Linked DNA regions of Homo sapiens. The protein of the gene in region 5 purifies or fractionates together with the protein of the main gene of each other region. This does not show direct contact. Each region holds a gene or a part of one and is shown on either strand. Other genes may lie near its edges. The genes, in order: IGSF1, CA12, IGDCC4, HACD2, FLVCR1, ENPP1 and CPT1A.

Evidence for each region.
Region 1: the proteins of FLVCR1 (region 5) and IGSF1 purify together in Homo sapiens (affinity purification with mass spectrometry; one large-scale study listed by BioGRID and IntAct). This does not show direct contact.
Region 2: the proteins of FLVCR1 (region 5) and CA12 purify together in Homo sapiens (affinity purification with mass spectrometry; one large-scale study listed by BioGRID and IntAct). This does not show direct contact.
Region 3: the proteins of FLVCR1 (region 5) and IGDCC4 purify together in Homo sapiens (affinity purification with mass spectrometry; one large-scale study listed by BioGRID and IntAct). This does not show direct contact.
Region 4: the proteins of FLVCR1 (region 5) and HACD2 purify together in Homo sapiens (affinity purification with mass spectrometry; one large-scale study listed by BioGRID and IntAct). This does not show direct contact.
Region 6: the proteins of FLVCR1 (region 5) and ENPP1 purify together in Homo sapiens (affinity purification with mass spectrometry; one large-scale study listed by BioGRID and IntAct). This does not show direct contact.
Region 7: the proteins of FLVCR1 (region 5) and CPT1A purify together in Homo sapiens (affinity purification with mass spectrometry; one large-scale study listed by BioGRID and IntAct). This does not show direct contact.

The regions. Positions count from the first base shown.
Region 1 is NC_000023.11:131,272,597-131,276,560, forward strand, and holds the end of IGSF1 (immunoglobulin superfamily member 1 isoform 1 precursor), read right to left. Parts: intron 3,653-3,964; coding exon 3,365-3,652; intron 3,170-3,364; coding exon 2,882-3,169; intron 2,691-2,881; coding exon 2,403-2,690; intron 2,282-2,402; coding exon 2,003-2,281; intron 1,611-2,002; coding exon 1,487-1,610; intron 1,336-1,486; coding exon 1,200-1,335; 3' UTR 910-1,199; downstream 1-909. UniProt on the Homo sapiens protein: Seems to be a coreceptor in inhibin signaling, but seems not to be a high-affinity inhibin receptor. Antagonizes activin A signaling in the presence or absence of inhibin B.
Region 2 is NC_000015.10:63,346,700-63,351,012, forward strand, and holds part of CA12 (carbonic anhydrase 12 isoform 1 precursor), read right to left. Parts: intron 11-4,313; coding exon 1-10. UniProt on the Homo sapiens protein: Reversible hydration of carbon dioxide.
Region 3 is NC_000015.10:65,415,945-65,420,257, forward strand, and holds part of IGDCC4 (immunoglobulin superfamily DCC subclass member 4 precursor), read right to left. Parts: intron 3,626-4,313; exon of another isoform or gene 905-3,625; intron 1-904.
Region 4 is NC_000003.12:123,577,933-123,582,245, reverse strand, and holds part of HACD2 (very-long-chain (3R)-3-hydroxyacyl-CoA dehydratase 2), read left to right. Parts: coding exon 1-34; intron 35-2,476; coding exon of another isoform or gene 2,477-2,545; intron 2,546-4,313. UniProt on the Homo sapiens protein: Catalyzes the third of the very long-chain fatty acids (VLCFA) elongation four-step cycle (condensation, reduction, dehydration, and reduction).
Region 5 is NC_000001.11:212,864,171-212,868,483, reverse strand, and holds part of FLVCR1 (choline/ethanolamine transporter FLVCR1), read right to left. Parts: intron 4,092-4,313; coding exon of another isoform or gene 3,965-4,091; intron 1-3,964.
Region 6 is NC_000006.12:131,877,440-131,881,752, reverse strand, and holds part of ENPP1 (ectonucleotide pyrophosphatase/phosphodiesterase family member 1), read right to left. Parts: intron 3,212-4,313; coding exon 3,160-3,211; intron 1,874-3,159; coding exon 1,719-1,873; intron 1-1,718. UniProt on the Homo sapiens protein: Nucleotide pyrophosphatase that generates diphosphate (PPi) and functions in bone mineralization and soft tissue calcification by regulating pyrophosphate levels.
Region 7 is NC_000011.10:68,772,098-68,776,410, forward strand, and holds part of CPT1A (carnitine O-palmitoyltransferase 1, liver isoform), read right to left. Parts: intron 3,336-4,313; coding exon 3,219-3,335; intron 1,333-3,218; coding exon 1,168-1,332; intron 1-1,167. UniProt on the Homo sapiens protein: Catalyzes the transfer of the acyl group of long-chain fatty acid-CoA conjugates onto carnitine, an essential step for the mitochondrial uptake of long-chain fatty acids and their subsequent beta-oxidation in the mitochondrion.

The DNA.
Region 1 (3,964 bases), on a different chromosome or scaffold from region 5:
ACTCACCAGGTACTGTACCCTTGTACATTGCTCTATTGAACAGTGTTAGCTTAGAATTAAACACTGCTGGGAGGCAAGTTTAACTTCTTTAGGGTCAGATTTGAAGGGGTCATGACCCCCTCTCAGACCTGTAGGTCACTTTTTCTGAGGTCTTTAACAAGCTTTGAGGAACTAGGTAAGCCACCCACCCCATTCCAAACGGCCTAATGGCCTAATGTGTACTGAATTCCCACTCATGGGGCAAGTGGCCTTCTAATCCAGGGGGAAAGATCAGTGGCTGAGAATGGGAGCTAGCCCCCCGCCCCACCATTTCCCCATTTGGAATCCTGGGAGGCGACACTGGCAGGTCCCCTGTTCCAAACCATCCACCTCATCTGCTTACTGGCTTCTTGAGATCCCACCATTACACGCACATTCCTTTGGGAAAATGGAACTCTCTTTAGAGAGGGACAAAGTATCAGATTTGATTAATTGTTCTTACTTAAGAGTGAATTCATTTACACCCTGTGATTGCTAGGTAAGGGTCACAAAGCGCGCTTTTCCAGTTTCAAAGTGCTGCTGAGGGCCAATCCCACTGTTTGAAAGTGGATGTACTATGGACCCAAACGTAACACAATGAAATGCATGTAATGTCTGTGTTTTCCCTCCTCAGGCTCAACTTGGAGAGAGTGTTGCCATTCATTCATTCATCTATCCCATGGAAGGGCAAAAGAATACTCTGGTCAGTGACTATGTGTCAAACCAAATTGGGAAGTAGCTATTTTGGAGCCCCCTCCCCACGCCCATCCTTGAACAACTTTCTCTTTTCTCGTACCCCTGCACTCTCTTATTCTGCCATCGAGATCAGCTCCAATACATCATTTCTAAATTGTTAGTGGAAAACAGACCAATAGAAGACCACAGCCATAGTTTTTGAAGTTAAATAGTGAATACTCTTTTTATTCAGAAGAATGCATTTTTAATAGAATTTCATGCGCCAGTAAATCAGTACAGTGAGGAGTTACAGGGGTGGGGAACCTCTCTTCAGGAAACATCTCACCCTGGCAGAGCTCTCAACTCCCAGAATCCCCTTTACCCAGCTCAGGTGATTAGAGACCAAGGAACAGCAGATGGGGCTGACTTGCAGGGTAACTGGTTGGATTTATAGGTCTCTGAGAGCAAGAGAGAGGAGAGGAAAGCTCTTGTAAAGGAGGAGATTATTATATTGGAACGGGCAGTTCCACAGAGATTCTCTGAGAGGTTGATGAAGGAGAATTGGCAGGGGTGCCTGGTTCTCCTTCTTGGTTACACTCTTCAAGGGCAATGGTCTGGTCTCTTCCGTCTGTCTCTGAGCCTCTATGTAAAGAAAAAGACATGAGTAAGGGAGGACCCAGAAACTGAAAACAGATTGCACGGTGGGGCTCAGATACTAGGGGAGCATTTGTATGATTGTTTTTCTAGCACCACCTGGTTCACAGAAGGGGGCCATAATGAGGCATTTATTTACCTGGTTCGCAGTCGAGGCCACTTCTTCCACTCTATGGCTAGCACTACCCCCAAGGCTACAACAACCACCACGATTAGGCTACTTCGGACAATGTTCCCTACAGTGCACTCCTGAGCAACAGGCCCTGTGGTGATGAAAGAGGAGAAACCGAGGCCATGGAGATTAGCGTGTGTATGTTCCCCTTGATCTGGTATTGCCCCACACTCTGGCCTTCTTTAGGGTTCACGTGGGAGCCATCTGTTCAGACTACAGAGGGGGTGGGCAGTGGCAGAGTTTATGCTGAAGCAGAAGCAGCCCTCCTTTCCTTGGGGAAAAGAGGCCTGAAAAGAAACCCACTCACTATCTTCAAATATATTTAAGGTCCCACCTCCTCATCATCCTTAGGAGAAAGATGACACACTTCAGGTCCCTGGCTCCAAAGCTCCTCCATTCTCCTGATTTGGGATGTCTCCATGGGGACTGTCCCTGGGATCCCAGGTGTGTCACACCAGGACCATGGAGAGATTATTCTCTTACCTGCTGCCCCCACCAGCTCCAGGGGATCACTAGGCTCTGACCAGATATCAGGGTAGGCCTGGAGGCGGTAGCTGCAGCTGTAGTTTCCAATGCCTTTTCCTTCTACGTTGTTGATGACAAAGTCTCCATCCTCTGAAAACTGCTGAGGTGCTTCTTCTCCATCATGTTCTAGGACAAATTCAACACCTGGCAGGGGTCCTCGGCACTGAAGGGTGATGTCCTTCCCTAACTTGAACATGGTGCTGGGCCAGGCTGACAGAGAGGGTTTAGGGGGCTTATCTGCAACCAACAAGGACACAGAGTTAAAAGAAATGATCCTGAACTTAGCCTTTTACCCCCTTATTGCTTACTGCTAAAAACTACAAAATCGTGACTTGTACTGAAGTCTCCAGGACCTTACCAGTCACCCAGATCTCCAGGGAGTCACTGTGATTTGAAGCTGCAAAGGGAGTAGAGTCCAAATAATAAACACAGCTATAGATCCCAGAGTCTTCACCTCTCACTGCTGGCATCCAGAAGTCAGCCCTGTACCCACTTGGCCTCTGTTGCTCTAAAGGCTCCTGAGCCCCCTCCTTCAACAGGACAAATGTTGAGTCTGGCAGTTCCCCTTGACACTGAAGAGTCATATTTTCGCCAGGGGCCACCATGGGACCAGGCTGGGCTAATAGGCTGGGTTTGGGGAGTAAGCCTGGAAGAAATGAACTCCTGGTCAAAGAGAAGAGGTCACTTTCCAGTGCATCACCCCTGGGGTCTCTGCTCAATAAAGAGGAAAGGCAATTGGTTGCCTCTCCTCGAGCTCTCTGAAAACTATCTCCCATGAACTAGTCTATTCCCTCCTTTCTACACTTCCATGCCCACTCGACAGCCTCTTCCCCTTACCTGTGACTAGGAGTTCCAGGGTGTTGCTAGGTTGTATCTTGATAGAACTGGTCCAGTCAGGGTGGTAGCAGCAGCTGTAACGCCCCATGCTAGTACCAGATATATTGGTGATGGGGAATGCCCCGTCATTACTGGTGGATCCCCAGAGCTGCATTGAAGTGGCTTCTCCTTCTTTGTGCAGAATGTATCCTACTCCATGGACCGGCCCTCGGCACCAGAGAGTAACATTCTGCCCCATGGGAACCACAGAACTGGGCTCAGCAAACAACCATGGCTTAGGGAATGTGTCTAGAAAGAGACCAAGGTTGTAAAGTGGTGACTATAGAAACTTATGAGTTCCTGCTTAAATTAACACTCTATCTTTCTCCTCTTGGGCACGGTAGTTCCCCTCCGTGGCCTAGCCTAGCCTTCCAGGAGGAATTACTCTCCCTAACCCCTTCTCCAATGATCTCCATCCCAGTCCCATGTCCGGTCGGTCCTTACCAGTCACCCAGATCATAAGGGGCATACTGAGATATGACCCCCTGTTTGACATGGTTGTCTCATAGTAGATACAGCTATAGTTCCCAGAGTCCTCTGCTCCAACAGTGTGGAGAAGGAAGTCAGCTGAGTTCCCTGAGACACTCCGAAACTGTAAGGGAACATGGGCTCCCTCCTGCAAGAGGGCGAACCTCATGCCCTGGAAAGTCCCTTGGCAGCGCAGGATCACACTCTTCCCAGGAAACACCACAGGACCTGGCTGTGCCAGGAGAGTGGGTTTGGGGTAGAATTCTGAAATTAAAGAGACCACAGCATGAGATAAACCCAGCCCTCACATCCTGCAAATAGCCTTTTAAAGTGTTATTGTAAGACACAATATATGTTTGTTGTTAAAAATTAGAAAATATAGAAAAAAAAACTAATGAAGGAAACACAATTCTACCACTCAAAGATAAATATTTTTAATATTTAATTGCCATTTATTCTTTCCATATATTCCCATGTCCATGTAGCTATAACTGTTTACATAATTGGGACTCCACTTATGCACAGTTGTGTAGTTGTGTAGTATGCAGCTGACATTTCAAGGTCTTCTCCCTTTCT
Region 2 (4,313 bases), on a different chromosome or scaffold from region 5:
CCATCAGGACCTGGACACAGAGATCCATGCTCAAGATTTAGAGTTTCTCACAAAGGGATTTTCCTTATCTTCTAATTCTCTGTTCAATACAATTACTCCTTTTCTCCTCTTTTCTGAATCCCCGGAGGTAAATCTTCAAGGCTCAGAGTCTTGGCCTCCAGAATCAGGTCCAGCAACCACTCAGGACCACCTGCTCTTAAGTGATGTGGGGAAAGAAGGACTAGGGCTGCACAGGCCAGAGCCAGAAGGCCACCGAACTCTGCTTTATTTTGTACATTGTTCCTGTTTGACACACACGTCAAGACCTGTTGACTTTCAGCAATTCAGCATCTGCTTAGCCAGTACCTATTATGAGCCAGGAATTACTCTGGGTCTTGGGGCTGCCAGGTTGAATACAATAGAGCCCCTGCTCATCCAAGCTGGCATTCTAGCGGGGAAGAATTTAGCAAATCTGCGGGGCCACCCCAGGTGGGAAAAATTAGTGTCTTACTGACCACAGTGCCAAGTATTATCTTGGTGCAAAAATAATTGCGGTTTTTGCCATTCCTTTCAGGCAAAAACCACAACTGCTTTTGCACCAACCTAAATAGGTCTTTGTGGCTGCTGGCTTTGCAAGTATGACCTTCCTGAAGAGAAACCCCTGAGGACATTGACTCTTGATACCCACATTTAGAGTAACTATAGAACCCAATCTGATAGGGATGATTGACAAATGTTAAATAATTATAGGCCTGGAATCACAGAGTGAAGTGCAGAGTTTAAGCTGGAAAAAAATATGACCACACTATAAACTAATTATTACAATATAATTGACACACTATCAGTGAAGAGGAACAGACTTTAAAAAAAGAAATTCCTCCAGGGCTCAAGCTTCTTGCTAACTACCAGATAGCAGTTCCTCCCCTGGAAATGAAAATAAACATGCTATGTGCAGATGAACTTTCCTACTCCCACAGGGAAAAAGTCTTTAAAGAATGTAAATCTATGTTTAAAAGATTATCTCCACGGTAATTAAACAGACTTTCAGGCCAAGGTTTCTCCAGAAAAGCAAAGAATTGGCATGTCATGGCTCGTTAGGGTAGACCCAGGGTGTCCTGTGGGCTCTATCAGAGCTGGGGATCAAGCTTTGCCATCTGGGGGTCCGTTCATCAGTATTTCAACACAAGGAAGGTGGGTAAATAGAGAAAAGGGGAAAGGAACACCACCTCTTCTGGGAATTCTTCTGTAGACCCCTGCACTGTTTCACAAGGGTGTAAATGTTATATTGGCCCCACAGAATCCCAACCCCCTACATCGTGCTCTCTAACTAGGGGACCGTATCTGAGAGTGGGAAGAATCCGAAGTGATACTTGGTACCCAGGTTCATTTCAAATGCTATGAGGCGTTGGTCCCAGGCTTAGTTAGTTCTTACTTCTAGGTCCGGACACACACATCGGAACCCTACTGATTTTTCAGGCTGTCAACCTTAGGCTATGCATTTTCAGAAATGTTACAGCATGACGGAATTGCAGAATCTCCAGTCCAACCTTTCACTGGACACCAGTCTTCTCACTTGGGCATGGCAGAGTCTCCGCTGAGCTCTACTATTCTTATTTTCAAGGCCTCAAAATAACTCAACTACACCAAGATGGTGACTAGGGAAGAGGGAGGCTGGAGGATATCAAAGCAGGCACTCCAGGGCCAAACTGGAGTAAGACAATTATTCAGCTGGGGGCCAAACCGAATGCTTTAGGGGCAGCGGGGAGCAGAATGAAGCAACCGTGAGGCCTCATGTAGAACCCCAGGGTCAGGAAGAGACACAGCACAGGGTAAGACTCCCTAAGTGAGGCTGCCAGCCTTTTCTGTGCTCACAATACTGCCTGGGCCCACAGCCAGCAGGGCGGAAGCTGCCAGCCAGGCATGAATGCAAAAAACTCAGGAAGTAAAGAGATGCATCATTGAGAAGCTTTCTCTTTGCACACATGACTAAAGGGAACTGGATTAGAAGGGTTTTCTTTTCCCACAGTGGAGGTTCAAAAAGGTTTCATCAAGAGGGCATTTTACTGATAGCTAAACGAGAGCCTCGTGAAGATAGGGACCCCTCATCTTCGTCTCTGTGAACCCATATTATAAGTAGGGTCACGTGCCCCCATGGGCATTTAGGAAACATTTTCCCAAAGAGTGAAAAAGAACAGAGGGCTTGGGAAAATGTGACTTGGGGAATGTTTCCTTTTTCTCTTGCTCTAAATACGCTTTATTGGAAGTTAGGACCAAATAAGGTATTTGGGGGGCAGGAAAGACTAAGGATATTAAAGGCAGTAGAGTTGGTGTTGGCAAAACCTGTCTTGGAAAGAGAAGCAGCTATGTTGGACCAGGGGAGTCCAGAGAATGAGATTCCAGCATCAGCTGTCCCAACACTTCAGTGGGTTATGTTCCCTGCTGGAGCCTCCATTGCCCTTCGTGCAAATGGTGGGGGTGGTGGGCGTAGTGGTGGGGATGGGATGTGTGTGGAAGCTATGTTCTGGAAGGTTCCTTCTGGCTCTTAAGCTCTGATATTTATTAAGAATACTAGGACTAAGCACCTTCTCCATCTGTCAGGCAAATTTGAATGAGTCAGAAAGGTTGCTCATGTCAAGGCAGCTACTGGGCATGTGACAAGGTGCCCAGGGGAACCAGCTTCGGGAATGAGGGCACAGGGCACCGGTGCTCCAGGACTGGCTGGGATCAGACAGCCATCTGCATCAGGAACCTGCCCTGGTCCTGGCTGCCATCCACAGCGGAGTTCGTCCTTGGGCACCAGTCACAGGTCTGTAGGTCAGCAAGGTCAAGAAAGCCTTGTCTTCGCCTCCTCCTCCTCCTCCTCATTGTTATTATATTGTAGTAGCTTTGATCCTTATAACTCTATAACCTTACGGGGTAAGCAAGGCAGAATTGCACCATTTTATGGGTGAAAAATAGAGATTTAAGAGATTTGCCGGAAGTTTGACTTTGGCTAAGTAACAGTTACTTTGCTTGGGTCACAGGACTTATGTGTCCTTCAGTATTTATCCAGGAGATTTTGTGCACCTGGAATTTCCTGGCTTCCCCACGCTGTCCTTGAAGACAAGGACCACGGCTCATCCATCGCTGCACTTCCCACAGTGCCTGGCACAGAGTGGGCCCTCACATGTTTACTAAGCTGAACTCTCAACACCTGTTTCATGCTTGTTCCTTTCCCAGGGAACGTGCACCCACCTTAATTCCCTCATGTATTTCTTCTCCTCAAAAAAGAGGAGGAAAAATGAGATCACTTGCTCAGGTTCAAAATGTACCCTCCTAGCTTTCTAGCTTACCTGTGTGCAAATGGTTTCTGTTTGGGGGCACTAATTGAAAAAGAAATCTGATTTCTGCCCTGTAGCCTGGGAGACGGCCTGCCAAGGAAGTTCATAGGGCCCTCCCCCAGCATGTAATGGCTAGTGGGTGTCCCCGCCTTGCATAGCTGGGGACACTGTCAGAGCAGCCTCCTGTCTTTGTGGCATGTGAGAGATAGAGGTGCCATGAGGGTGGGCACCGGGACAACCAATATCAGAGGTGACAACAGCAGGCCTTTCTGTTCCCTGAGCTGTGACATGTGACTGCACAGTGCTGGCCTTATGCTGGCCGCTACACCCTGGGCTACCATTTTCCAACTCAGTGTCAGCTTTCACACTCATGCCAAGTGCTCCACTGCCAGAAATCCTCCACTGGGAGTGACTCTCCTAAAAGAAGCATTTATTTCCAGCTAAAACTTTGCCTTTGCTCTTCTGAGTTTTGACTTCGCCTCTCCAGTTGGTTGGACTCCTCCCATGATCGTGATACAGGAGGATCACGTGTCTTTCACAGTTTGTTTTTCTAAATAAAGCCAAGGCATTATTTCTTTCCTGTCTATGTGTTTTTCCTGCTCTAGGCAAAACAGAAGTGGTCAGAATTCCTGTTTCGAAAGGTAACAAGAGATTAACATGGCACAGCTCAAAATGCCTCTCGTGATTTCTGATTGGGAATTTTGAGGCCCAGGGTGTAGGACCTGCATTATCCAAGGACCAGAATGTTTTTACAGAAAATTTCAAATGTATACAATGTAGAGAGAGGAGTGGAATGAACCCCATGTCACCCAGCTTGGACAGTTTACAATTCAGAAACAGTCCTGCCTCATCTATGCTAAGCCCATTCTCCCCTTATCTACCTGGATAACTGGAAACAAATCCAGATATATTTCATCTGTATATATTTCATATGTTTCTCTAAAACATAAGGGCTCTTAAAACCACAGTACCATGACCACACCTAGAGAGTTAAGAATTAATACCTTAAGATTA
Region 3 (4,313 bases), on a different chromosome or scaffold from region 5:
TCAGAGTCCTGGGTTCTAAGTCCAGTCATTCATTGCATGACCTTGTGTGAGCTACTTTTGTCCTTTCAGCCTCAGTTTCCCCAATTTTAAAATGAGAAGTCTCCAAACTTCTCAAACGTTTTCACCCAAATTCTCTCAACAGCAGAGGAACACATATTTACGAGGCTCGCTGACTGCCTAAAATGTTTTGACTTTTTTTTTTTTTTTTTTTTTTTTTGAGACTCGCTCTGTCACCCAGGCTGGAGTGTAGTGGCGCAATCTCGGCTCACTGCAAGCTCCGCCTCCCGGGTTCGAGACATTCTCCTGCCTCAGCCTCCCGAGTAGCTGGGACTGCAGGCGCCCGCCACCATACCCAGCTAATTTTTTGTATTTTTAGTAGAGACGGGGTTTCACCGTGTTAGCCAGGATGGTCTCAATCTCCTGACTTCGTGATCCGCCCGCCTCGGCCTTCCAAAGTGCTGGGATTACAGGCATGAGCCACCGCGCCCGGCCAAACCTCTAGCACATTTTGCATTCTGCTCCATAACACAGCAATATTTGTTTTAATATAAGTGTGGCTCCCATACCACCAAATCTTTTCATAAAAGCGATGCTCTGGGGAGGGGACCTTATTTGTCCAGGAGCTTCATGGCCAGCGCTTACTTGCCACCCCCAGCCCACTGTCATGGCTGACCCCCAACATTTTTAGCCCTCCCTCTCAGTGCCGGGGTGGACACATTGCAGGTGCCCAGTGGACACTTGCTGCCCGCTGGCTTTCTGTCTTGAGGGGGCCACCCCTCCCATAATCCCTTCTCCTCAATCTCCTCAGTGAGACCCTGTCAGAGACACAGAGCTGCTGCATTTGGGAACCCTAGGGCCACCTCTCAATCTCCTTTTTCTGACAGATTATTTTACCCACTTACAGGATAAACTGGATTTTATGAGGCCAATTAGAACCCAGACAGAAAGGAGATTCGCTGCTGAGCTCCAGGGCCAGCTCAATGCTGTTTCGTGGGATTAGTGGAGGCCTGGCGTGAGTTCCATTTTTCAGTGAATTCTTAGGGAAGGGGCGTGTAGCTGGGGGAGGGGAACAACGAGGCCAAGATGGCTCCTTTATTAAGCCAGGAACTTGCCACAAACATCACATCAGTGCCTCCTCACTTCTGAATTTCAGGGCCCAACAGATTTACTACTTGTTTGCAGCCCAGGAGAAATTCTCCACGACACCATCACCATTCTCCTTTCCCAGAGAACACAAGTCGGTTCCTTCCAGAAACCTTCCTTCCTGCCCCCAACCTTGGCCACCTCCCTTACCACATGCTGAGCCCCTCCCCCCAACAGCTGGAAGGAGAGTTGGGACAGTTGCCTGGGACACAAGGAAGGCCTCAGCTCTCCCTTCATCTGCAATCCTGAGGGGAGAGTCTCAGCCTCAGCCTATCCAACAGCAAAGCCAGGCTCAGCTTGACCTGCCTATCTCCCGCTCCCCTGAGACCCTCTACCCCTCCACACACAGCAAACCATGGCCAATTCTCTGAAAACACATCTTGTTCCACGCATTGCTGGTGCTGCTCTCACTCCCTAGAACAGCTGTGATGTCCCTGGTTGATTTAGACACCTCTCCTTTTTCTGCCCCGTAGAACGCTGGCACCCCCATCATCGCAGTTATCACTCCAGATTTTTTTTGCGGGGGGAGACGGAGTCTCACTCTGTCACCCAGGTTGGAGTGCAGTGGCATGATCTCGGCTCACTGCAACCTCTGCCACCCAGGTTCAAGTGATTCTCCTGCTTCAGCCTCTTAAGTAGCTGGGACTACAGGTGTGCGCCACCATGCCTGGCTAGTTTTTGTATTTTTTGGTAGGACGGGATTTCACCATGTTGGTCAGGGTGGTCTCGAACTCCTGACCTCAAGTGATCCGCCCACCTTGGCCTCCCAAAGTGCTGGGATTACAGGAGTGAGCCACCATGCCCAGCCTTCACTCTAGGTTTTTGACTTGCCTTTCTCCTCAACTAGGCACCAAAGTCTTGGGGTTATGTCTTAGCTTTCTAAATCCTCGGTACCTGGAACAGTGCCTAACACACAGTAGGTGCTCAATAAACATTTCTTGAATGGATGAGTGAACCCATGAAGACATCCTCAAAAAGATAAGGCATAGAGCCCCCTATGCTTTTCCAAGCATCAGTTTCCTTATCTGTAAAAACAACAGTAACTCCCTTCAGGGCAAGAAAGGATGTCAGGAAGACATGTGGAAACTGCCTAGCACACTGCGTGGCACCCAGTAGACATGACATGCTTGAAAAGCAGAGATAGAACAGCTGAAGTCCACACTGAAAGAAACCCTGTACTTAAACATGACCAGGCTGGGGAGATCACTACCTTGCCTGTTCTCTTGCTGTATGGCTCATATGGTTAAAAAATTTATTTCTCTTGTGCCCACCTGTCTCTCCCAGTACTTTCTGCTCACTGGCCAGAGCTTTGTCCTGCAAACTATCTAACAAGGTCATAAGTCCCTTATAGAACCATCCAGGAGTCTTGGGTCTGCACCTGAAGGACAGCTTATTGGTCCTTGCTTCCCTGATCCCAAGGACCCCATGGGCCCCCAAATCCAAAGGATACCTCACTCAGCCTCAGCAGTGAGGCAGTAGTAGCTGGCAGCCCAGTTGGCACAGGTAACAGGGTTTGATTTCTCTGCATGTCAGGCTCCAAAACATACTCTCTGGTTTTCCTTCCCTGGCCCCCTAGCTCCTGTCACCCACCTCTGACCAGGCTGGGGTCCTCTCCCTCAGAGCCATGCTTACTCCTCCCCCTGCCCCCAAGCCTGCCTGGTAATGACATCTGCTCTGCATCTGGAATTCCGTATCAAGTCTGGTTGCTGTACCATGGGAGAGAATAGAAAGAGGTGGGGGGGGTTAAGTGGAGGAGGGTGGATTCCAGAGCCCAGATAGACCCACTTGAGAGGGAGAGCATGAAGCTGATAACGTCTCAGAAGGTATAGAGGAGTGCAAAGAGAGTGAACTTGGGTATCCCTAGAAAGGGTGGCCCCATTTCAGTCCCTAATCATGTAACTTTGGGAAGTCACTCAGTTTTCTCATCTGTAAAAACAGGTTCATGCTAAAATTGTTTCTTCTTTTCTTTCTCTTTCTTCTTTTGAGACAGAGTCTCACTCTGTTGCCCAGGGTGGAGAACAGTGGTGCGAGCCATCATAGCTTACCACAGTCTTGAACTCCTGGGCTCAAGCAATCCTCCCACTTCGGCCTCCTGAGCAGCAAGGACAACAGGGAACACCACCATGACCGCCATGCTTTTTTTTTTTTTTTTTTTAATTTTTCGTAGAAATGAGGTCTCAATATGTTGCCCAGTCTGGTCTCAAACTCAGCTCAAGCGATCCTCCTGCCTCAGCCACACAAAGTGCTGGGATTACAGGTATGAGCCTGGCCTGAAATTATTTCTAAGTTCCTCTCAGTGCTGACATTCAATGATGCGCTAATTGTGAAATTGCTTCACTTGAAAGAGATATGTTTAGGAGAAAAGAAATGCTAATTAACATGTAAATGTGTGTTTAATTGAGTCATGAAAGCACATAGAGGATCAATGAAGGTTTAGGTATCTTCTGGATAAGATTCATTATTAAAAGAAACTCCAACTGTTTGACCTGATTCCTAACTTCCAAGATGGGGAAAGAGGCCCACCCCAAATGACTGAGATTGGCCTCTGAGCCTCTGGGCTGAGAAAGGGATGGGGGAGGTGAGGAGTTCCCAGGTGAGGAGAAAGCTCTCAAGTTCTTAGAGGCCTCCCATTACTGACCTCTAGGTTCCCTACCCTCCAAATTCTGACTTGGGAAGAAGGGAGAGCCGAGAGCCCCACCTTTGTGCGTGTGATAAGAACAGAGCTCGGCTTCTCGCCACCTGTTCACAAAGGGGTCCCAGTCCCTGACTCAAGAACAGTGTTGGGAGGAGATGGGCAGGCACAGGCATTATCCTAACCCCAATACCAGCCCTTCATTCTGCCTCATGTTTTTTTGTTGTTGTTGTGTTTGTTTTTTTGAGACAGAGTCTCACTTTGTCGCCCAGGCTGGAGTGCAGTGGCGTGATCTCAGCTCACTGCAACCTTCACCTCCCAGGTTCAAACGATTCTCGAGTCTCAGACTCCCGAGTAGCTGGGATTACAGGCATGCACCACCACACCTGGCCAACTTTTGTATTTTTAGTAGAGATGGGGTTTCACCATGTTGGCCAGGCTGGTGTTGAACTCCTGACTTCACGTGATCCGCCCGCCTTGGCCTCCCAAAGTGCTGGGATTACAGGCGTGAGCCACCGCACCCGGCCTATTTCTTACT
Region 4 (4,313 bases), on a different chromosome or scaffold from region 5:
TTTGAAATTCTTTCAAACTGGAGCCTTATTGGAGGTAGGTCCTGAGATTTATTGTTGTTATTGATTTCCATTGGTATGAAGAAAAACATGCAACTAAATTATATTGAAGTAGCATACCCCCTTTGGATTCATGTTAAATTTTGAAATTTTGCCTCCTCACATACTAAAGTGTTGATACCTAGGCTTTTTGATGTTCTAGATTGGGTAGAATCTCATTTAACTTAGGTTACCTTGAATGTATTTTATATTCGACTTTTTTGGGAAATCAACTGAAGCAAGCTTATATTAGGATTTTTAAAAATTCTAGGGACATCCTGGGGAAGCACTGGCAAAATCAGATGCTTTCAGGGTTTATGTAATAGAAATAGTGAAGTTGGTGGGTGTAGGATATTGGAAGTGATAGATAGAAGACATAATAGAGAGCCTGTCTAGAGGCGTCCAAATTTTAAAAATTTAACAAAAATGTATTGATTTCCCTGCATTAAGGGCAATGTATATCCAGCCCTCTCTCTTGGGGTAAGTATAGATTAGGATTTTGGAATTGCAAGGGACAAAAACCCAATTCAAACTATTTTAAGCAAAAAAGGAATTTTCTGGCCTCTGTAGTTGATACAGATACAGGATTAATTTACAAAGAAACTAGCTCAGGAATGAGAACCAAGGAGCTGACACTGCCAGATTCTCTTGCTTTCTCTCATTTCTGCTTGTCTGTTTCTCTTTGAATGTTGGTCTTGGGCTCTCCACATGGTGGGAAACAGGGAGGGTGTTTATTTTTCGCAGCATCTGTGTCACACAGTTCCCAGAGAGGATTCTGGTTGGCCCTACTTAGACTATGCCAGTGATGTGAGGTGCTTGATTAGCCAATCTTAGGACACATGCCCATTCTTCTGTCCAAGGGACTATAGACTTTGCTTATGGAAAAGAGGGATGGGGATAGCTTTGGGCACACAAAATCAATAGCCGCCATAGTTCGTATATTTCATTATGGTGAAAAACCTTCAGATTGCAGGGAAGATCTGGTTCATTTTGCTTAGCCTCCAGGCAAGACCATCATAACATTTATACTTTACTGGCAACTTTTAAAACCTGAACTATGGAATGATACTTAAGAAAAAATCATTTATCTCGCTGGGCACGGTGGCTCACGCCTGTAATCCCAGCACTCTGGGAGGCCGAGGCGGGTGGATCACGAGGTCAGGAGATTGAGACCGTCCTGGCTAACACAGTGAAACCCCGTCTCTACTAAAAATACAAAAATTAGCCGGGTGTGGTGGCACGGGCGTGTGGTCCCAGCTACTGGGAGGCAAGGTTGCAGTGAGCTGAGATCACGCCACTGTACTCCAGCCTGGGCAACAGAACGAGACTCTGTCTCAAAAAAAAAAAAAAAAAAAATTCTTTATCTCATGAAATGAAGTGTGATACCTCTACCTTTCATTCTCAATTTTTTTTTTTTTCTTGAGACAGGGTCTTGTTCTGTCGCCCAGGCTGGAGTGCAGTGGTGCCATCATGGCCGTGGCTCACTGCAGCCTTGAACTCCTGGGACCAAGCAGTCCTCCCACCTCAGCTTGCAGAGTAGCTGGGCCCACAGGCTTGCACCACCATACATGGATAATTTTTAAAACTTCATAGAGACAGGGTCTCCCTGTGTTGCCCAGGCTGGTCTCAAACTCCTTGGCTCAAGCAATCTTCCCATCTCAGCCTCCCAAAGCACTGAGATTACAGGCGTGAACCACTGCACCCAGCCCACTCTCACTTTATTTATTTATTTTTTTGAGAGAGGGTCACTCTGTCACCCAGGCTGAAGTGCAGTGGTGTGATCACTGCTCACTGCAGCCTTGACTTCCCAGGCCCCAGCCATCCTCCCACCTCATCCTCCCAAGTAGCTGGGACCACAGGCGTGCACTACCGTGCCTGGCTCATTTTTATATTTTTGGTAGAGGTGAGGTTTGGCTGTGTTTCCCAGGCTGGATTCACTCTCACGTTCTAGATCAGAAAGTTATCCATTTTGCTTTTGTTTTTTTCTCTTAGAAGGCAGAGGAATTTCTTTTTTTCTTTCTTTCTTTTTTCTTTTTTTTTTTTGACACAGGGCCTTACTCTGTTGCCCAGGCAGGAGTGCAGTGGTGGGATCTCGGCTCACTGCAACACAGAGGAATTTCAATAGTGTCCAAACTTAGGCATTTTAAGTAGGTGGTATGATGAAATGAGCTTCCAGCTGGAAGCCTGAGTACCTTTTTATTTTAAGTATAATAGTTTTCCCAACTGACTCTATAGATTTGGGCAAGTCTTTTCTCTCGTATCCACCTCCTTTTCATTTGTAAATAATTAGGTTAAAGTAGATTTCTAAAGTCCCTTACTACCCTAAATTTGAGTGTGAGGAAATTTTAACAAATCCTAATGTGAACCATTTTTTAAACTTAGAGGCTTGAACTTTTTTTGGAAGCGGACACTAGTAAATAAGTAGTACTTTCTCTTTCAGAACCTTGGCCAGTACAGTTCCCACAAGCTACAGAGAAGCAAATTTGGAGTCAAGACCATCAGACTTCCAGTACTTGATATAGTAGGGGGTTGTCCCCATTTGGAATACTTCAATAATTTAAAGGGGTTTCTATCTCTTTAAGACATCATAATATTAGAGCTGAGCACAGTGGCTCATGCTTATAGTCCCAGCAATCCCAGAGCTTTGGGAGGCCAAGGCAGGAGGATCACTTGAGGGCAAGAGTTCGAGACCAGCTTGAGCAACATAGCAAGACCTCATCTCTACAAAAAAAAAATTTTTTTTTTTTTAGCTGGGCTGGGTGGTGGGTACCTGTAGTCCCAGCTACTTGGGAGGCTGAAATGGGAGGCTTGAGCTTGAACCCAGGAGTTTGAGGCTGCAGCGAACTATGATTGCATCACTGCAATCCAGCCTGGATGACAGAGTGAGACCTTGTCTCAAAAAAAAAAAAACTTGGTAATGTTAGAAGTATAATTTTTAAAATTTAAGTATATCTTATGGAAGGTAGGGACATTAAACAGTGTCATACTTTAAAATCCACTCAGGAACCAAGTCTTAGACTTTGAAGGATTAGCCTGTTTATCCTTATAGAATTTTTAATAGGGATTTAGGAAAATATCTTGGATTTTTGGTTTTATCTCTGTTATCCCCACTAAGAACCAATTAAGTGACAAATCCTGGATTTGATTTTGGGAAAATGTCTGTGCATAAGGAAGTGAAGACTCCCAGGAACATGCAGGCAATTAACGTTGCAAAGGTCAGTGATGGAAGTAATCCCTTGGACTGGGCGATAGAGCAGGCTTGCTAAAACCACAATTTCTGTGGTTGAGGAGTTTTTCATTGCCTACCCCATCTACACTGTGTAATAATTAGATGTGTGTGGTATTGTTTAATTACACATAAGTTATCCTGATGGGAATTATTAGTGTTGACATATATCCTGTTTACAGGAGGAGAAAATGAATCCAGGGAAGGCAGCTACTCATTTATATCTCTTTATGCTAAATGTTATTCTTTATTAGGTTCTGTGGGAGTTTACTTAAAAAGGAAATCGAAATTACTTGTTCTCCAATTTCACATCTTCTTAAGAAAATAATAACACTTTGCTTTTTAAAAGACATAAAAACATTTACCAAGCAAGTACAAAGGAGCATGTAGTAGCAAGGTACAAAAGGAAGCCTGGCTGAGTACCATGGCTCACACCTGTAATCCCAGCACTTTAGGAGGCTGACATGGGGGGATTGCTTGAGGCCAGAAATTCAAGACCATCCTGGGAAACATAGCGAGACCCCATCTCTACAAAAAATTAAAAAATTGGCCAGGCATGGTAGCACATGCCTGTAGTCCCAGCTAATCAGGAGACTGAGGTGGGAGGATCACTTGTGCCCAGGAGTTCAAGGCTACAGTGAGCCATGATCGTGCCACTGCACTCCAGCCTGGGTGACAGAGCAAGACCCCATTTCCAAAAAAAAAAGTATCTATAAATAAAATGCTACTCATGGATAAAATGTGGTCTATGGATATAAACATTCATAAAATTAATAAAGGCAAATGAATTACTGATATATGCCTGGATAAATCTTGAAAAAATGCATGTGAAAGGAGGCAGATACAAAAAGTCACAAATAGTATGATTTCATTTATAAGAAATATCCAGAATAGGCAAATCCATAGTGACAGAAAGTAGAGGAATTGTTAGGGGCTGTGGGGAGAGAGAGTGGGGTGTGACTGCTAATGGTACAGGATTTCCTTTTAAGGTGATGATATTGTTCTTGAAATAGTGGTGGTGGGTGCACAACTCTGTGAACATATTAAAAAC
Region 5 (4,313 bases):
GGAGATCGCGTCACTGCACTCCAGCCTGGGCAACAAGAGCTAAACTCTGTCTCAAAATAAAATAAAATAAAATAAAGTTTATAGATATCTTGAATTAAGAATCAAAAGCAGCTGGGCATGGTGGCTCATGCCTGTAATCCCAGCACTTTGGGAGCCCAAGGCAAGCTGGGAACAGCCTGGGCAACATGGTGAAACCCTGTCTACAAAAAATATAAAAAATAGCCAGGCATGATAGCACACACCTGTAGTCCCAGCTACTCAGAGGGCTGAGGTAGGAAGATTGCTTAAGGCTGGCCAGGAGATCAAGGGTGCAGTGAGCTGAGATTGTGCCACTGCACTCCAGCCTGGGTGACAGGGCGAGACCCCATCTCTTAAAAAAGAATTAAAAGTAAAATTATCACACCTGTAATCCCAGCACTTTGAGAGGCTGAGGTGGGCGAATCATGAGGTCAGGAGATCGAGACCATCCTGGCTAACACGGTGAAACCCCATCTCTACTAAAAATACAAAAAATTAGCCGGGCGCGGTGGTGGGTGCCTGTAGTCCCAGCTACTCAGGAGGCTGAGGCAGGAGAATGGTGTGAACCCGGGAGGCAGAGCTTGCAGTGAGCCAAGATCGCGCCACTGTACTCCTGCCTGGGTGAAAGAGCGAGACTCCATCTCAAAAAAAAAAAAAAAAAGTAAAATTATGCACACATTATATGCTTATGTGTTTAAGCATATTAATATTAAATATTTTTATTGTGATTACTTTTGGCTTCTGTCATCCACTCATTTTAGTGAATCAGGAAAGTATTTTAATTGACACATGAGTTAAATGACATAGTTTACTGCTCTGCTGCACAAGAACAGCTTTTAAATACAACAGCATTACCACTTATGCAAGAATCTGAATTCGAACAAAAAATAAGGCTCAGTAAAAATTAAAATGTTATTTTTTATCTGTAACTTTTATATAGGGAGTTAAATTGTCTAGGCTTAAATCTGACCTTCAGTGTTTACTATAACCTTGGACAAATTAGATTTAACTAAATTCTGTGCCTCAGTTTCCTTGTCTATAAAATGGGAATATTGGTACCCTCCTCACAGAGTCATGAGGATTAAATGAGATACAGCATGTAGTAAGCCTCCAAACATGTTTGGCACATACCAACAAACCAAATGTTTGAGGCTATAATAGAGTTCTCCTAATAGGAATAGGGTATTAGTGTGAAATTCAGTGGAATGCTTGGGTTAATTCCTGGAAACACTAGATGGATTATACTCAATATAAGCTCCATGAGGGAGAGGAACAGTTACATGGCATGAACCTTTGAGAAAATATTTTAAGCAGACTGCTGAGTATCAATTTAGTACATGTCACGTTGCGGAAAAATCTCAACAAAATTAAATTATTTTATGAGGACGTGGTGGGACTTCCAAAGTAAGTATGGATAGAATTCAGAGAGAAGTAAAATCACCTTTTAGTAATTAAGGAACTTTATTTGGTATGGATTTTTTTAAGTAATCCAAAGTTTGCTCAATAGCAAATATTTGGGAATGAGGAAAACAAGTATGTGTTCTATTTAAATGTCACAATTTTCAACTTAAGACTTTCATATCACAGCTGTATACTATCTTGCTTTTATAATATGCTTGGGATCATAAAATTAAAATTAGAGTCCTCCAAGCAAAAGTTGACAAAGAGCCTTTGTTTAATGCCATATTTCCCATTATTTTCCCCTCATTTCTATTTCCACTCTCTACCTGTAGGCCATGAGTACATAATTAGTTAAGTACATAATCAGATCTCTTTTAATTTCTCAAATAACAAAGGGTAATATGCCAATAGTCATACCTATTATTATCATTCTTGGTCTCCCTCCTTCAACAAGTAAAGATCTTTTATTTGTAGCAGTTTAAACATACACACATCACATGTATGATTTCGTGATATCTTACATGCAATCTCTTACTTTCTCACTTCTTTCTGAGACAAGCAATTGAAGAGGATTTAAAAAAAAAAAAAAAGGAAAATCAGAATTTATGTGAAGACACAAAAGTAATCAAAAGAAAGAGAATTTTGGCCGGGTGCAGTGGCTCACACCAGTAATCCCAGCCCTTTGGGAGGCCGAGGCAGGCAGATCATTTGAGGTCAGGAGTTCGAGACCAGACTGGCCAACATGGTGAAACCCCATCTCTACTAAAAACACACAAAAAAGGCCGGGCTCGGTGGCTCATGCCTGTAATTCCAGCACTTTGGGAGGCCAAGGCGGGCAGATCACCTGAGGTCAGAAGTTCGAGACCAGCCTGGCCAACATGGTGAAACCCCGTCTCTACTAAAAATACAAAAATTAGCCAGGCATGGTGGCACGCGCCTGTAATCTCAGCTACTTGGGAGGCTGAGGCACAAGAATCCCTTGAATGTGGGAGGCAGAGGTTGCAGTGAGTCGAAATTGCGCCACTGCACTCCAGCCTGGCTGACAGAGCAAGACTCTGTCTCAAAAAAAAAAAAAAAAAAAAACCAAACCCCAAAAATTAGCCAAATGCCTGTAATCCCAGGGAGGGAGGCTGAGGCACGAGAACTGCTTGAACCCAGGAGGCAGAGATTGCAGTGAGTCCAGATAGCGCCACTGCCCTCCAGCCTGGGTGACAGAGCGAGACTCCGTCTTGATAAAAAAAAAAAAAGAGAGAGAATTCTATACTTTAAAAATCCCTATTGCTGGCCGGGCCTGGTGGCTCATGCCTATAATCCCAGCACTTTGGGAGGTTGAGGCAGGTGGATCATTTGAGGTCAGGAGTTTGAGACCAACCTGACCAACATGGTGAAACCCTGTCTCTACTGAAAATACAAAAATTAGCTGGCATGGTGGTGCATGCCTGTAAGCCCAGCTGCTCGGGAGGCTGAGGCAGGAGAATCACTTGAACTTGGGAGGTAGAGGTTTCAGTGAGCTGAGATCATGCCACTGCACTCCAGCCTGGGTGACAGAGCGAGACTCTGTCTCAAAAAAAAAAAAAAATCCCTATTGCAAATGGAAGGTCCATTTATGCAAAATGTATTTCCTATTTCATCTAGCAAATCAAACATGGCTACCAGAAAAGCAGACTTAAGAATTGTGGTGTTTTTACCGCATGCTCTCACTCATAGGTGGGAACTGAACAATGAGAACACATGGACACTGGAAGGGGAACATCACACACCGGGACCTATTGTGGGATGGGGGGTGGGGGGAGGGATAGCATTAGGAGATATACCTAATGTAAATGACGAGTTAATGGGTGCAGCACACCAACATGGCACATGTATACATATGTAACAAACCTGCACGTTGTGCACATGTACCCTAAAACTTATAATAAAAAAAAAAAGAATTTTGGTGTTTTTTTTTTAAGAATACAAATTTCTTTTAAAACTTTGCTAAACTGCTAAAATAGGATAGGAATAATGTGTCCTTCTTAGTAGTCTGCACATCACAAATATGCCACTCCATAACTAACTGAAAACCAAAACCAACAAGTGGATTACACATGTTTGAATACTTCATATGTTACCAAGAGAACATTCTGCTCATTATATTAAGGGAAATTAAGTATGTGGGCTGAGCTTCCTGTACCTGGATCCTGCAGTTCATCTACCAAGGCAGTCTCTACCCAAACACTCTAGAATCTTCAGCATACATTTCTTTGAAAACTAAGAATTTTATATCTGGAGATCACAAAATATGAATTTTCCATTACTATTATAGCCATTGTAAAAACTAGTATATAAATTTAAAACTCCAGCTATAATGAAATTATAAATTTGAATGATTAAAAGATGGCATTTCAACTTTATTAGTTCTTTTCCTCTTCAAATCAATTTCAGATGAGTGCCTAAAGGGCAATATTATAGTTATGCTAGCAGCTATATTACTTAAATAAACCTTACCTATCCTTTTCCCTGAAATCAAAAGTTTCCCATTAAAAATAAACTTTAAAAAGCAGACCTTCCCAAAGCTTCTTCCAAACTGATGATGGCTGCTTGCAGTTGATTTTGACTGACTGCTTCAAGAGACAGGCTCAGACGAGAGGACTCAGTGACGAGTGGTGGCAGCCGTGCTTTGCTGGAGTGGCCTAACAAGTAGATAGTTGCCACAGTTTGAAATTCTGCTGAACAGCTTGCTGCTGCCCAGGACCATTCACTAGTCAACATTTTCAGATCCAGTTAATTGTTAAATTGGAAAGCCTTGGGAGAATTTAGCATTACCAGAAAGACCATAGCCTACGTGCATCACTTCAAAGCATGGCAAGAACTTGTTCCTGGCTAGGTAGGCATAAGAGGCATAAGATGCAGAC
Region 6 (4,313 bases), on a different chromosome or scaffold from region 5:
ACCCACCACGCCTGGCTAATTTTTTGTATTTTTAGTAGAGACAGGGTTTCACCATGTTAGCCAGGATGGTCTCGAACTCCTGACCTCGTGATCTGCCCTCCTCAGCCCCCCAAAGTGTTGGGATTACAGGCGTGAGCCACCGCGCTGGTCAATTTTAAGCTTTTATATAGTAAAATGTTGATTTTTAGAGATCTGAGTCTATCTTCCATAGTCAACTACACTGCCAAAAGTTGCTGGAGCAAAGGAGGACAGTCACCGAACAGCAATGTAAAAACCTCAAGCATCGCAATGACTGTAAAGTTATGCATTTTAATTACATAAGAAAACTGAAAATGGAATCAAGGAACCCATAATTAAGGTATAAATATTAATAAATAGGATGGGGTGCCTATGAAAAATGGTGTAGACTGATCAATTACAAAGTCAAAAATTTTTTTAAGTGTTTGGTGTTTGAAGACAGTATTGAAAAATTTTAAAAATCAAAGTTCAAGAAATTTTATATAAATATATGTGTGTATTATATATTTGTAACATAGAAATTATATATAAACAGACATATCCCTATCTTTTTATTTGGTTGTCTCACTGATTAGTAAAAATCATTTTATTTTTTAAATCAAACTGCTGCCCTCCACTATGCTCTCTCAAATCCCTTTGTCGTTCCCTTAGGGCATCCTGTACCTTGCCAGTCACTTTCAGTTTCAGCCCAGTTTAAAATTTCAATTCCACGTAAGATCAAAATCTCATCTTCCCCCTTCTCTCTTTCCAGCACCATCTCCTTCACCATTCCTCCTTCTACCAGAGCACCCAGGGGGCCATGGGTGAGGGGGAAGGCTGCTCTTATTCTGGGATATTTGCCCTCACTCCTTTCAAGGCCTAACTCCTCTGGTGTTGGTGGTGGGCAGGATTCTGGCCTCTCCCTGGTTTGGGCTCGTGTCTTCCTATAGATGGTACGTGCAATGATGTTACTGAGCTTTAATGGCTTTGCCAAACAGTGAGGGCCCCCTTAGATTTGGACAGCTGAGGGAAATACTTGTCCTCACACAGCCATGTATTTAGAAATGGGTAACTGTGACTGATCCTAAGGCTGATTTCATGCAATTATAAATTGGAATCATAAAATATTAAAACTGGGGTCGGGGAGGAAAAGAGAATTCTTTTCTTTCTTTCTTTCTTTTTTTTTTTTGAGATGGAGTCTCACTCTGTCACCCAGGCTAGAGTACAGTGGCGCCATCTTGGCTCACTGCAAGCTCCACCACCTCCCGGGTTCACACCATTCTCCTGCCTCAGCCTCCTGAGTAGCTGGGACTACAGGCGCCCGCCACCACGCCCGGCTAATTTTTTTATATTTTTAGTAGAGATGGAGTTTCACCGTGTTAGCCAGGATGGTCTCGATCTCCTGACCTCGTGATCTGCCCGCCTCGGCCTCCCAAAGTGCTGAGATTACAGGCATGAGCCACTGCGCACAGCCCAAAAGAGAATCTTTACTGCACGACCCTCATTTCACAGAAGAAATTTGGTCTGAGTTCTCAAAGTCATGCAGCTGCTCAGTGGCAGAGCTTGAACTGGAACTGAATTTTTCTGACTCCCTCTTCAGTGTTCCTCTAATGCGGGAACTGAGTATAAAGCCAAGGTGAACAGTGAGAAACTATGCATTTAATGTTCTGCTTAATCATTAATTTGAAATGGCCACACATAAAGAGGTGACAAATACTTGCATTTCTGTCCACGGTATAGGATGTCCAAAGGGGCATTAAGATGTCTTGGCTGTATCCACTCATAAACTGGTGCTGGGAAAGAAGACAGATGGTGTTTTCCTTCTGGAGAACTCTAGGTCTTCCATAGGGTAAAGTTTCATGCTTAATAATCTTCTCTTGGGTCACAGGATGAAAATAAATGTAGTTAGTGTGCATTATATGATAATATATAGTGTGATACACTCATCTAATCCTTTCCTCTACTTAATTATATTGAAGATTTACTTTTAACTATTAAAAAAACTGATTACAAAGGGTAGAAGCATAAACAATTAAGAAGACAAGTGAGGTTCACTGTTATTTTTGCCTATAAAGATTCTGAAATCAATGTAATATCAAGATACCATGAGGACACTATATGAAATTGCTAAATATTCCAGTTAATTCAAAGTTATATTACCAAAAATTCTTAAGCACTATTTTAATTACTTATTCTTTAGGACACACTCCAGAAAGCAAATTTTTTTAATGATATGTGTACTTGGAAAGCAGAAGTTCAGAATTGAAATTATGAGACTAAACTAAATAAAACAATAACAATATAGATATTATTTATTGCCCTTTTTCCAAATGTCAAGGGCTTGGTACACATCATATAACTAATTTTTACATTTCCCTATGAATTAAGGTTATATGCCCATTTTACAGATAAGGAAACAGCAGCTGACAGGGAATACTATTTCCATGAACATATAGTACCTAAGCTCATATTCAAACTTGGATCTACTCAATTCTGAAAGTGCCATCATTCACCACAATACTTTGCCACCTTGGAGATATCAAAGATTTTCCTAACTCCAGCATTTACCTAGGGATTTTATAGAGACAAACTTACATCAGAACTAATGCAGAATTTACCTCTTTATTCTAGTAGAAAAAAAATGTGTGCCAAGTAACTTAAGGCTGAGAGAGTGTATTATAGTGACTCCAAACATTCAAGTCATAAGTGAAAAATTTCATCAGTTGTCTGTGTATCCTTGATTTTTGGTCAAAAGTGATGCAGAAATAACTTTAGATCAATAAATCAATATATAACCTTGTATGATTAAGAACCAGGTGAGATAGAAACTTAGGTATTTCAAATGGGAATCTCAGTCTCTATTATCAACTTACAGAAATCATCAAAAATTTTTGAACACCTCCATCATGTTCACAAGGTGTGATTCAGCTTCCACTAAATACATTACATACAATATCCACTGCAAAATATCTCCTTTCCTTATGCCTAATAGTCTAAACTGTCAAGCAAAGAAACCTCTATGTTTCATCAGGTGGTCCTCCAGAACTCCCTTTATTTTATTGGTTATTCTCAAATAATACCCCCAAGCCAGTTCTCTGCATTTCACACTGATGAGAAAATGCCTGCTTCACATTCCGAGCTTGAGTGTGTAGCATGCCTTACCTTCTGCCACAGTCAGATTGAACTGTGTTTGAAAATCCTCAATCGGCAAAATCTAAAAAAGGTTATAAAACTATTTTTAAGGACTGAGAGACATGTTTTAAATTTTGTAACATAGAACCGCTATAGATTGATTATTCCAACATAGAACAAAGATCATTTATGATAGTCTTGTATTAGTGGATTTTTTTTTCTCTTTCAAGGCAAGAGTGTTGCTCTTTCACCCAGGCTGGTGTGCAGTGGTGCAATCATGACTCAGTGCAGCCTTGGCCTACTGGGCTCAAGCAATCCTCCCACCTCAGGCTCCCAAGTAAATGGGACTCCAGGCATATGTCACCATGCCCAGCTAATTTTTTTAGTTTTTTGTACAGACAGGGTCTCACTATGTTGCCCAGTCTGGTCTTGAACTCCTGGTCTCAAGCAATCCTCTCACCTCGGCCTCCCAAAGTACTGGGATTACAGGTGTGGTACACCATGCCTGGACAGAAGTTACATTTTTGATGAAAAGGACAGAAGGAGAGGAATGACAGTTGCAAAAGACAAAATTGTTAGTATAAGCATCACACCAGTAATTAAAAAATAAGAATATGATTGCTGCTTTATAATTCTCATCTATATACCCCAACAGTCTTTCTTCTATTCTAACTCAAGTCTAAAACAAAATGTAAAGCATGAAATAAACTACTCTCCAAATTGCTATATATATATATATATATATATATATATATATTTTTTTTTTTTTTTTTTTTTTTTTTTTTGAGAAAGGGTCTTGCCCTGTTGCCCAGGCTGGAATGCGATGGTGTGATCTTGGCTCACTGCAACCTCCGCCTCCCAGGTTCAAACAATTCTCCTGCCTCAGCCTCCCAAGTAGCTGGGATTACAGGTGCCCTCATGGATGTTATCAATTTTGTTCATAACTTGTCTAGTATTTTTATCTTTTTATAATAATGACATATTAACATGGAAGTAAAAAAGGACAGTGTAATATATTCATTTCATACCAAGAAATCTTTTTTCTCCCTACATTTAAACAATCTGAATTGTATTTTTAAAAAGGTACATTGTGATTGGTTTACTATGTGCTCATCACCTCACTGCTAGAGTTAACAGCACAGATTCCCTAATTCAGGATGCTCAAGAACTGAACTAGACTTCTC
Region 7 (4,313 bases), on a different chromosome or scaffold from region 5:
TCCCAGCACTTTGGGAGGCCAAGGCGGGTGGATCACCTGAAGCCAGGAGCTCGAGACCAGCCTGCTCAACATGGTGAAACCCCATCTCTACTAAAAATACAAAAAATTAGCTGGGCATGGGGGCGCACACCTGTAATCCCAGCTACTCGGGAGGCTGAGGCAGGAGAACTGCTTGAACCCGGGAGGTGGAGGTTGCAGTGAGCCGAGATCATGCCATTACACTCCAGCCTGGGTAACAAGAGTGAGATTCTGTCTCAAAAAAAAAGTTGGGAATATCTCAAGCCAATGCCACGATGACTTGTGCTGCCCCCAGAAACCAAGGGCCCCCTGTCTGGGATGGAATGCTCCCTCCAATGGACAAGAAGACCCATTTATGTCCCTGCTAGGGGTGCAGGCTGCTCCTCCAACAGGGGTTGCCAGGTGCAAGCCAAAATATGGCCAGTGCTCAGAAAAGGGAGATGGAAATGCCATGTGTATACAGGGGATCCAGCCCATGGCACCTCCAAGTGGCTGGAGTTTCTCCTTTTATGGAAGGAGATGTCAAAGGCCAGAGACGTTAAGTAATTTGCCCAAAGACATCACTTAATAGCTATATAATATTCCACTGTATGAAAATACCAAAATTTAATTTAGTATGGTGAAAGGAAGATTTACTCTGCCAAAAGGAAAGGATTAAGCTGAAAGCTAAGTCATGCAAGAAGCTTTTTATTTTGTTCCCAAGCAGAGAGCGACAGATGAAACGTGGACCATGTTCACCTGACCTGTGTGAAGTGCAGATTTACCGAGCGCCAGACGAATACGTAACTGACTATTCCCCTACCTGCCCACACTATTTCCACTTTAGCAAATGCTAGGATTCGGGGCTTATTATGGGGCTTAACTCTCCCTCTGTAGAGTGATGAGATCTCACTTTGTCCTCATCCCCCAGACTCTCCCTCTCCCGTGTCAGCTGGGAATCTACGCCTGCTGGAGGGGGATTTGCGAACTTTGCCCGCGTGCGTGGTGAAACACCCAACGCCACCCGGCCCCCGGAGACCGGGGTCGGGGGGAGCTGTGCTTCTCCTATGCCGGGTTTCGGGCCTTCCCTCCCCACTGGGTGAACAGTCTTGGGCAGGTGTAGGAACCCCCAAAGTGCTCACGACAAAACCCTAGGCGGTCAGTTCTTACCTTGTAGTGCGCCAGCTGGAGGGCCAGCTGCACAAAGGCGTCTGGGCTCGTGCGACATTTCTTGATGATTCCTTTACCAAAGGCTACGAATGGGAAGGAATGGAAATCCACGTCGTTTGCCAGAAGATTTGCGGTGTTCAGGGAGGTCTCTATAACCTCTTGACACTTGAGAGAAAGAAGAAAAAGGTTTTACGGAACGAGGGGAGAAAAGTACTGACGCACACCCAGAAGGAAATTGGAGGCTGGTTTTTAGTGCAGCTATAAACTCGGTACTGGGAAGTACACAAACGTTTTCCTGACCCAGAAGCCCTAGTAAGTTAGGGGCATGGCTCCCTGACCCCGGAGGAGCAGCTGCAATGTTATAGCAGGTAGCGGGTCTGACATGAGCAGGCCAGGAGAGGGCTTCCTCCGACACACACTGGGAATATCACGCGACCATCAGTGATGGTCAGGTGGTTGTGAACTGTCTCTCTAAAATAATAATAGGTCACAGCCGGTGCCAGGGAAAGGCAGTCTCTCAGTAGATAGAAATGGAGCTGGTGACCAGCAGCTTCCCGATAAGATCTCAAGCGTTGGGCGAGTGGGCTGAAGCATGCGCACTGAGAGGCAAAATGGCGGCGTCTAACTGGACTATGAGCTTCCTCCAGCAGTGCTAGACAGGCAAGGGCAGAACACCTCAAGTGAGCATGCGCACAACTCCAGTAAACATACTGCGCATGCTCCCTTCCCAAGCGCTGGAGCCACTGTGCATGCGGACAGCCCACAACAAGGGAGGAATTGGGAGAAGTAACACAAGACCCTGGACGCATGCCAATGTATAAAACCTCAAGTCAAGAGGTCAAACCTCGCACTTAATCTCCCAAGTTGGCCGCTTGGCCCTCTTCCAAATGTACTTTCCTTCCTTTCGTTCCTAAAGTTTTTAAAATAAACTTTCCCGCTTTTAAACTTGGTCTCTCCTGCCTTCTGCCCCACAGTCAAATTCGTTCTGAGAAGGCAAGAATTGAGGTTGCTGCAGACCCGTACAGATATGTTCTGACGCTAACAGGAACATGGGTAGGGGACGGGGGCACCCTGGCTTCCAGTGAGACCCCAAAGGGTGTTTCAAATAGTCACACGTCATCTTATGATGACGTCATCACACAGTGGCAATCAAGAAACACATTTTTTTACTTTTTATTATTAATTTTTATTTATTTGAGATAGGGTGTCCCTCTGTTGCCCAGGCTGGAGTGCAGTGGCACCATCGCTGCTCACTGCACCTTCTGCCTCCCTGGTTCAAGCCATTCTCCTGCCTCAGCCTCCGGAGTAGCTGGGACTACAGGCACTTACCACTATGCCCGGCTAATTTTTGTATTTTTAGTAGAGACGGGGTTTCACCATGGTGGCAGGCACCTGTAATCCTAGCTACTTGGGAGGCTGAAGCAGGAGAATCGTTTGAACCTGGGAGGCAGAGGTTGCAGTGAGCTGAGATCGCGCCATTGCACTCCAGCCTGGGTGACAGTGCGAGACTACATCTCAAAAAAAAAAAAAAAAAAGAAAAAGAAAATGGTATCTTGGACTCCAGGGAATTTCTCCTTGGATTAAGTGAACTAGGATTTGGTATTTGCAACCCTAAAATTCCTTCCCAAAAGGGCTCCTGTGAATGGGCTGCCTCTGAGCATGTTTAAGAGGTGCCAAAATGAATTAAACTTTGAGAAGTATAAATGAGCAATTTAGAGGCTTTCAGCTCTAACCTATGTGATTTTGGCTTTTAGTTTTTGATTATGAGCATTCTGTAGATGTCTAGTTAAGTTTAAGCTGGAAATAGCGCTGACAGTCTTAGCCAGGAGCTTCAAACAGAAGAAGAAATATTTACCGAGGCTTCCGAGGCAACAGGAGCTGTGACAGCCCCGCAGACCCACGGAACTCCCTGAGCAAACAACTTTCAGCCTCAGTGGTCTTCAACTGAGCTCATGATAGGGCAGGAACTACGGTTGGAAAATTCATCTGTAAGACTTCAAATGTGTTTCCCATCCCAGGTAAGTAACAATGGTTGGATAATCCGGACTTACTTCCCCCGGGATGTCCCACTGCAGCCTGGTGGGGTACGGAATGTTCGGATTGATGTCGCCTTTGCAGTGCCCATCCTCCGCATAGCCCAGCTGGAGGCTGTCAATGGACATGACGTACTGTCAAAAATAGAACAAAATTATTAAAACTAACAGTGGTACATAAAACACATTAACCTCCAACATGAAGAGAGGGTTGTTCTTTGCAGAGATGTTACAAAGTTTGAATCACAGCTGTTAAGGCTTCCAGTATGCTCAGCACCTAATGAGGTGGATCTGATCTCCATGTCAGATGTGACAGAGAGAGGACAGACGAGGGCTAAGGGCTTGCTCAAGTTTGTGACGCTCTCCTTTCACTGGCAAGTAAACCTAAGCCAATTTATTCAACGGTGTTTATTGGGCACCTACTATGGGTTGGAACCACTGTAGCATCAGCGGCATCCAAGCCCTGGTGACAGCGCAGACAAGAACTGTGTTTTGTGAACAAAACAGACAAGAATTCTTGCCCTTCCTTAAAAAGTGAAATATACCTGTATGACCCAGCAGTTCCACTCCTAGGTACATACTCACTGAAATGAAATGAATAGATGCTCACACAAAAACTTGTACAGAATGTTCAGAGCAGCATTATTCATAATAGCCAAAGAGTGGAAACAACACAAATGCCCATCAACTGATGAAGAGATAAACAAAGTGTGGTCAATCCATACAATGAGATATTATCCAGCCCTAGAAAGGAATGAATTCCAGGTATGTGTTACAACGTACTGAACCTTGAAAACATTATGCTGAGTGAAAAGAAGCAGGCAGGCGCGGTGCCTCACTTCAGTAATCCCAGCACTTTGGGAGGCCAAGGTGGGAGGATTGCTGGAGGCCAGGAGTTCCAAACCAGCTGGGCAACATAGTGAGATCTTATCTCTACAAGAAATTTTAAAAATTAGCCAGGTGTGGTGGCACATGGCTGTAGTCCCAGTTACTGAGGAGGCTGAGGTGGGAAGATCACCTGAGCCCAGGAGGTCATGGTTTCAATGAGTCATGACTGTGCCACTGCACTCCAGCCTGAGCGACAGAGCAAGACCCTGTCTCTAGAAAAGAAAG